Regions from separate parts of the Homo sapiens genome. Here regions 1 and 2 are each linked to region 3. Evidence: fine-mapped expression QTL. A gene starts in region 3. Each other region holds a variant in brackets. All regions are shown on one strand. Distances are from middle to middle.

What was found. PIP is the estimated chance that this variant, and not a neighbour inherited with it, causes the effect.
Region 1: its variant is the best candidate, but not a certain one, in a credible set for the expression of IDE in fibroblasts (GTEx, PIP 0.71).
Region 2: its variant is the best candidate, but not a certain one, in a credible set for the expression of IDE in nasal epithelium (TOPMed, PIP 0.77).

Annotation. Positions count from the first base shown.
Region 1 is chr10:92,622,906-92,625,758 of GRCh38, reverse strand. All of the region lies in intron 10 of KIF11 (kinesin family member 11), which reads right to left. Among named protein-coding and RNA genes, the nearest start is that of KIF11, 31 kb to the right of the region's middle. The variant A/C (reference allele first, on the strand shown) is at 1,658.
Region 2 is chr10:92,468,865-92,471,364 of GRCh38, reverse strand. IDE (insulin degrading enzyme) reads left to right here. Exons shown (of 25, transcript NM_004969.4): 18 at 1,020-1,111; 19 at 2,375-2,486. Among named protein-coding and RNA genes, the nearest start is that of IDE, 100 kb to the left of the region's middle. The variant G/A (reference allele first, on the strand shown) is at 1,210.
Region 3 is chr10:92,573,122-92,575,935 of GRCh38, reverse strand. IDE (insulin degrading enzyme) reads left to right here and starts at 1,843. Exons shown (of 25, transcript NM_004969.4): 1 at 1,843-2,014. The coding sequence starts at 1,917. RefSeq lists enhancers at 1,184-1,423, 1,434-1,493 and a silencer at 1,994-2,443.

The DNA of each region.
Region 1 (2,853 bases), 50 kb before region 3:
TTTTAGTACAATGATTGTGTATCCAGAAACTCTGCTTAAATTGTTGATCAGATCTAGGAGCTTATGGACAGAGACTATGGGGTTTTCTAAGTATAAAATCATATACACCCAGCGGGGCACGGTAGCTAACACCTGTAATCCCAGCAGTTTGGGAGGCGGAGGTGGGCAGATCACTTGAGGTCAGGAATTCAAGACCAGCCTGGCCAACATGGTGAAATCCCATCTCTACTAAAAATACAAAAATTAGCCGGGCATGGTGGCAGGCACCTGTAATCCCAGCTACTTCGGAGGCTGAGGCAGGAGAATCGCTTGAACCCAGGAGGTGGAGGTTGAAGTGAGCTGAGATCGTGCCACACTGCACTCCAGCCTGGGCAACAGTGAAACTGTGTCTCAAAAAAAAAAAAAAAAGTGGGCAAATGATGTGGACATTTTTCAAAAGAAGACATATATGTGGCTAAGAAGCATATGAAACTATGTTTAACACCATTAATTGTTAGAGAAATGCAAATCAAAACCACAATGAGAAACCATCTCACCAGTCAGAATGGCTATTATTAAAAAGTCAAAAAATAACACATGGTGATAAAGTTGTGGAGAAAAGGGAACGCTTATATGCTACTAATGAAAATTAGTTCAGCCATTATGGAAAGTAGTTTGGCGACTTCTCAAAGAACTTAAAACAGAAATACCGGCAGGGCATGGTGGCTCACACCTGTAATCCAGCACTTTGGGAGGCCGAGGTGGGCAGATCACTTGAGGTCAGGAGTTCGAGACCAGCCTGGCCAACATGGTGAAACCCCATCTCTACTAAAAATACAAAAATTAGCCAGGTGCGGTGGTGGGTGCCTATAATCCCAGATACTTGGGAGGCGGAGGTAGGAGACTTGCTTGAACCTGGGGGGCAGAGTTTGCAGTGAGCCGAGATTGTGCCACTGCAGTCCACCCTGGACAACAGAGCAAGACTCCATCTCAAAAAAAAAAAAAAACCACACACACACAGAAATACTATTTGAGCCAGCAATCCCATTACTGGGTATATACCCAAAGGAATATAAATTGTTCTACCATAAAGACACATGCACACATATGTTCATCATAGCACTATTCACAGCAGCAAAGACGTGGAATCAACCTAGCTATCCATCCACAGCAGACTGGATAAAGAAAATGTGGTACATATACACCATGGAATACTACACAGGCATAAAAAAGAGCAAGATGGCTGGGTGCAGTGGCACATGCCTGTAATCCCAGTACGCCAGGATACCAAGGTGAGTTGATCACTTGAGGCCAGGAATTCAAGACCAGCCTGGCCAACATGGTGCATGGTGAAACCCCATCTCTACTTAAAAAAAAAAAAATTTGCTGGGCATGGTGGCAGGTGCTTGTAATCCCAGCTACTCGGGCAGCTGGGGTAGGAGAATCACTTGAACCTGGGAGGCAGAGGTTGCAGTGAGCCGAGATCACACCACTATACTCCAGCCTGGGTGACAGAGCAAGACTGTCTCGAAAAAAAAAAAAAAAAAAAAAGAATGAGATCATGTTCTTTGCAGCAACATGGATGGAGCTGGATGCCATTGTCCTAAACAAACTAACATAGGAACAGAAAACCAAACACCAAACGTTCTCACTTATAAGTAGGAGCTAAACCCTGAGC[A/C]GACATGGACATGAGGAAGGGAACAATAGTCACCTGGGCCTCTTTGAGGGTGGAGGGTAAGAGGAGAGCAAGGATTGAAAAGCTATCCATCGGGTTCTATGGTTATTATCTGGGTGACAAAATAATATGTACACCAACTCCTGTTACATGCAATATATCTATAGAACAAATCTGCACATGTACTCCTGAAACTAAAATAAAAGTTAAAAAAAAAGAGAGCAAACACCATATTTTCAATCATGGGACTAAACAAATGAAAACCAAAGTTACTTCTTAAGTTCAAAAATAAAATCAGAAAGATGAAAGCCTCCAATAATCAATATCATTTCTAAAGACTACAGGCCAGGATTGAGTGCCTCACCAATTATTTTTTACTTCTAAAGCATCAAAAAAAGAACACCTCCATTAGTGATGGTAAACTGTTCACTAACCCACAATCTTACATTGTTCTGATTCTAGGGCATCTTACACATTCATGGAATACATTATGACAGTTGGAAGTAACACAGAAAAAACTAAGTTTATTAAATGATTTATATACTATTAGAGTGTTAACATCTACAAAAAAGTTCAGTAAAAGATTATACTAAAATGCTTCTGGTTATTATTAGGTCTAATATCTTTTATCACTATTAACTTTTAAAAAATGCTCTGTGAAAGTCTTGCTTCCTAATATCTTCAAGGATAAACACAATCAGGAATTTTCAAGTTATAGTCCTTAGCATCCCACTTGCCTTCTTCCCCTTGTTTTCTCTGTTATTATTGTTGTTTTATACAATGGGCCTCAATAAAAGCTTTCCTTTGAACAAATTACTCCAGGGCTTTAAAAAGTGAACAGATTAGTGGTTGCCAGGGGTTAGGAATCATGGAAAAGATGAGGTGAGTGTGACTACAGTGAATTAGCAAGAAAGATCCTTGTGATGATAGGATAGTTCTGTATCTTGATTGCAGTGGTGGTTACACAAATCTATACAAGTGACAAAATGGCATAGAACTACTATATACACATCTTGATATGGTCTGGTTCTCTGTCCCCACTGAAATCTCATGTTGAATTATAATCCCCACATGTTGGAGGAGGGACCTGATGGGAGATAACCGAGTGATAAAGATGGACTTCCCCCTTGCTGTTCTCATGATAGTGAATGAGTTCTCACAAGATCTGGTTGTTTAAAAGTGTGCAGTGCTTTCCTCTT
Region 2 (2,500 bases), 100 kb after region 3:
TCCTGATCTGTGGTAAGCACTTGTTATTTGCATTCCCATGTTTCTCCTTAAATGTCTATCACTGATTTTAGCATCCATTGGTAGATCTTGCATGTAGCAGTTATTACTATGGTGTCCTAATGGAGAAGGGACAGCTCTTCCTTACAGAAGGATTAAATTAATATATGTAAAAAGAAAGAGGGAAATAGAAAAATTGCCATTAGAACTCCATAGTAATAATTGCTACAGGCAATAACTACCAATGGATGCTAAAATTAGTGGGTCAAATTTAAAGAAAAAGAAAATATTTGTATAATCTCATTTACTTTTCCCAAAATAAATATTTAGTAATTACAAAGGGAAAAATAGGTGTAGATGGGCAAGTGGGCTTTTCCAAATTGCATATAGAGCACATATGAGTTATTAAATTATAAATAAAAGAATAAAATAATACATTTACAGTGAGGACATCTGGCAGACACCACCTTAACCAAGTGATCAGTTTTAACATCACTAGTACTACAACATATCAACTTCATGAGTCCCCTGATAGAATGCAGTGAGAAAGGCGCATTACCTTTGTGGTATTCTTTGTGGTAATACAGACATGAAATCTAATTGTGAGAAAACACCAGACAAACCCAAATGTGGGACTTCTATAAAATAACTGAACAGTACTCTTCAAAAGTCTTAAGATCATGAAATATATGGAAGGACTGAGAAACTGTCAGAGATTAGAGGGAACTAAAGACATATGACAGCTAAATGTAATGGAGGGTTGTGGATCAAATCCTGGAATAAAAAAAAAGATAAAAATGGGAAAAATCCAAATAAAGTCTGTACTTTAGTTAATAGTATTATACCAATGTTAATTTCTTAGTTTTGATGGTTATGAAAGATGTTAACATTAGGGAAAACTAGGTGAAGTGTTTACAGGAGCTCTGTGTACTATTTTTGCAAGTCTTCTGTAAGTCTCAAATTATCTCAAACAAAAAATCCCTCATAGGTAGCGCTCACTATGTCTTCTTACACCTTTGCAGATGTAACCCTTCCTCGCCTTAAGGCCTTCATACCTCAGCTCCTGTCACGGCTGCACATTGAAGCCCTTCTCCATGGAAACATAACAAAGCAGGTGGGTGGTTGAGGTTTTAGCAATCTTTTGTGGATCATTGCAAGATATTTTTTCCCTCTAGTCTTTCTCAAGATTGTTAACCAGCATGGTGTGATAAG[G/A]AACACATTAGAGTTTACTCAACCCTCTTGCTCTGTGGAGGAAGGTAGAGGGCACAGGGAAAGTAGAATGATGGTGATTAACTGAGGACCTAACTTTCATGGCTGCCTCCTCTGCTGTTTTCTACCTTGTGCAATCATAGGAGGAAATGGGAGTAATTATCCCTACTCTGTATAGGGTGGCATAATTGTATAGTAGATAAGAGCACGTGCTGTAGAATTAGACAGCCTGGATTCAAATCCTGGCTCTGCTATATACTAGATCTGTAATCTTTTGAAAATGTCTTAACTCTGTGCTTATCTGTTTTCTTTTCTGTAAAATTAGAGTTACAGTAGCACCTACGTCATGTGTGGTAAGGATTAAATAGTACATGCTAAGTACTTAGCACATGGAAAGCACTACAAAATTTCCGTGGCAGTCTGTCTCAAGATCCCTCAGTCTCGGCCGGGTGCAGTGGCTCACGCCTATCATCTCAGTACTTTGGAGGCTGAGGCAGGAGGATTACTTGAACCCAAGAGTTCGAGAGCAGCCTGGGCAACATAACTCTACAAAAAATTGAAAAACAGCCAGGTGTGGTAGTGCATGCCTGTAGTCCTAGCTACTCAGGAGGCTGAGGCAAGAGGATCTCTTGAGCCTAGGAGGTTGAGGCTGCAGTGAGTTATGATTGTGCCACTGCACTCCAGCCTGGGTAACAGAACGAAACCCTGTCTCAAAAAAAAAAAAGAAAAGATCCCTTGGTCTCTACCACTCTGCTATACCCCCTCCAGAACAATATGCCCAAGGTCAGATGCTAATAAGTGGCAGAAGCAAGATTCTTACCAAGGTCATTTTACCTACAATAAAGCCTATGTTTGCCTCCCTTGCTTTTCTGTGACCCCAGGTGTCTGTAGTCAGGATCATTTCACTTGAGACCATCTTTGGCAGTGCCTTTTTTCCAGCATCAGCATCAGTGTTGATGATTGTTTGGGTGTCTGTTTCTTTCACCACTACCATATTGACTCTATTGCAAAATGACCATACTGACAAATTCAATTTTTATCCATTTGAATAGGATCAAATATATTTAAGGTTTTAGAATCCACTTTTATGATAAACAAAGCCAGTTTATTTCACAAACAAGATATGTTTATGTTTTTGTAATATGCTGGGACATATCTTTTTCCATAGGCTGCATTAGGAATTATGCAGATGGTTGAAGACACCCTCATTGAACATGCTCATACCAAACCTCTCCTTCCAAGTCAGCTGGTTCGGTATAGAGAAGTTCAGCTCCCTGACAGTAAGTAGAGATGT
Region 3 (2,814 bases):
ATCATGAAGCTAATGAAGTTTAAACTTCAGGGCTGCTCACTTGCACAGGCTCCAAACTGGGAGTTGTAGAGGGAAAGCCAGTTGTTGTCTGGAAGCATTTTTTTTTTTTTTGAGACATAGAGTCTCATTTTGTTGCCCAGGCTGGAGTGCAGTGGCGTGATCTTGGCTCACTGCAACCTCCGCCTCCAGGGTTCAAGTGATTCTCCTGCCTCAGCCTCCTCAGTAGCTGGGATTACAGACGCATGCCACCACGCCTGGCTAATTTTTGTATTTTTAGTAGACACGGGGTTTCACCATTTTGGTCAGGCTGGTCTCGAACTCCTGATCTCGTTATCCGCCCGGCTTGGCCTCCCAAAGTGCTGGGATTACAGGCATGAGCCACCACGCCCGGCCATCTGGAAGCATTTTTATGTAAGCATTTCTAATAAGTAGCCTAAAGAGATCTCAGGAAAAAAAAGGGTACTAATCTCCAAGTCTCGAGTATTTGTTGTGATGTATTTTCTCTCTATAGTAATCTTCTGATTGCTAATTTTGTATTTATAATTTGTATTTTATGTCTCAAAGAGGTCCCCCAAATTGTATATGTTTCAAGCCCTCCAAGTCTGAATCTACCCCAGCCCATTTATAGATTCCATTAATGGAGCATAAATGTATTCAGAAAGGCTGCATTAACACTCTCAGAGGAGCTGCTTCAAGGTGATTGACTACTCTGCATTGGGACTGGTAATTTAAAGGTTCTTAAAACCATGCACTTGCAAACACCACTAGGAGGCTTGCCATAATTTTTACCTGTTTTCATCCAAAGGTTTGCCTTTAGGTGAAACCGCACTGTTAAAAAGATCGTGGGTACGTCTTCGATAAAGCATCAACTTGATTAAGGAACCCTCCTACTGAATTCCCATTTAAAGCAATACTTGGACTAAGGACACCGTTTTTGGCTGCAGTCTTGATCGTCTGTCAATCAGAAACCTAAAAGTACTTAAGCTGGCAAGTCACCATCCCTAATAGCATTCTTCCTTAAAGACTCCCATAAGGTATTATGGAAAGTTAGATTCATAACAACTATTAAGTTGTTCGTGGGTGCAAAGCCCCATAAAGCCACTGGGGAGAAAATTCTTTGTTTAAAAAGTAACCACTGAAGCCGACTGACATTAGTAGTATTCCTAGTACGGAGTACTAACAAGAGTAGTAGTTTCTACTCTGGATTTGAAGCCTTGTTTTGCTGCGGCGCCCGTCCCATCCGCACCTTCCTCTTAAGAGAGCTGCTAACTTCCCCAAGGATGGAAACGTCCCCCTGGGTCCTGGCCTCTCTATCGCTGACCCCTGCGTCTGAATTTCCCCCACGCCGCACTCGAGCCTTGTCTCCAGCGCATCTGTGCCTTCGCGGTCCACGTCCCCACCGCGCTCTAGAGGGAGCCCGCGGGCCGCGCGCCGGCCGCGGATTCATTTTACGTGAGGCCGCCGCGACCACGAACCTTGTTCCAACACCTGCAGGGTCCGGCACGCTAGTCAGTGGGGGTGCCTCAGAAAACATAGCCCCGTGTGCCCTCACTGGATTTATGAGCGGCCCCTCGCCCCCTCACAGTCAGACACACGTCGCCACCCTCACAAGTGCGGCCGGTGGGATCTAGCTGGGACCCTCCCCGCCTGGGAAAGTCTGGGTGCTGGCTCCTAAAGCGCCCCGGCCAAACCCCTGTCCCTCCAGTCCGCCTGCTCAGGCCTCGGCTGTCCGCGGTCTTCACCGTCCTCGCCTGCGTCCTGGCCCCATCCGGCTCCAGGCAAAACCCGGAGCAGCTACCTCTCCGCAGCTCCCGGGAGACCGCGCGGCGCCGCGGCTAGAGCATGCGCAGTGCGCAGGGCCGGCTCGAAGCGCAAGCAGGAAGCGTTTGCGGTGATCCCGGCGACTGCGCTGGCTAATGCGGTACCGGCTAGCGTGGCTTCTGCACCCCGCACTGCCCAGCACCTTCCGCTCAGTCCTCGGCGCCCGCCTGCCGCCTCCGGAGCGCCTGTGTGGGTAAGCGGAATGGAGCGCCCGGGCCCTCGGGCCCCGTGGGTCACAGCGGTTTGGCGCTCGGGTTGCAAAGTGGTGATTCAGCACTTAAAGCCGCCACCGCTGCCCCTCACGCCGCCCGTCCCGCCGGCCTGGGGCCCGTACTGCCGCGCTGAGGCCGCCCCAGGGCCCGGAAGAGCGGCTCGCCAGGCGGGAGCCAGAGGCCTGGTCCAGAGTCGGGGACGTCCCTTGGGCTGGTGAGGGGCCGGGGCCGCTACCCGGGGCCACGGGGCGTGTGCCACTAGTGCGGGGGGCGCAGGGGCGGACAGAGTCACCCGGCCTGCACCTGGGAGCCGCGCCGCGTCACTCTCCCGGAGTCCGCCTGTGAGGGGGCCGGGAACCTGAGGCGGACTCGAGCCGTGGGGTAAAGGAATCCGGCGACTTCGGGGGGACCGCTTCTCACCTTGCCCTCAGCCCTGCCCTTTTCTCCGGGCACTGAGTTTCCAGGACCGTGTGGAATGCCCGCGCTGGGAAAAAAGTTTGCCTGCCTCCCGCCTTGGAAGACGAGTGTGGGGTTTCCTATCGGGGGACATTTAGGAGCCAAAAGATACCTCGGGATCCTCTACAGCAGCTCCCTTGTTTTACGTCGGAGACAACCGGAGCTCCGAGAGATGGCTTGATTTCCCAGCAACTGCCGAGATTGTGGCAAAACCAGGATTAGGACACAGGTTTTTTGCCATCCGGCGGCGTGCCCTCTCCACTGCACCGTTGATCTGCGTACGCTAGGCGTTTTCAGGCTTGTAGTGAACGCTGAATACTTTTTA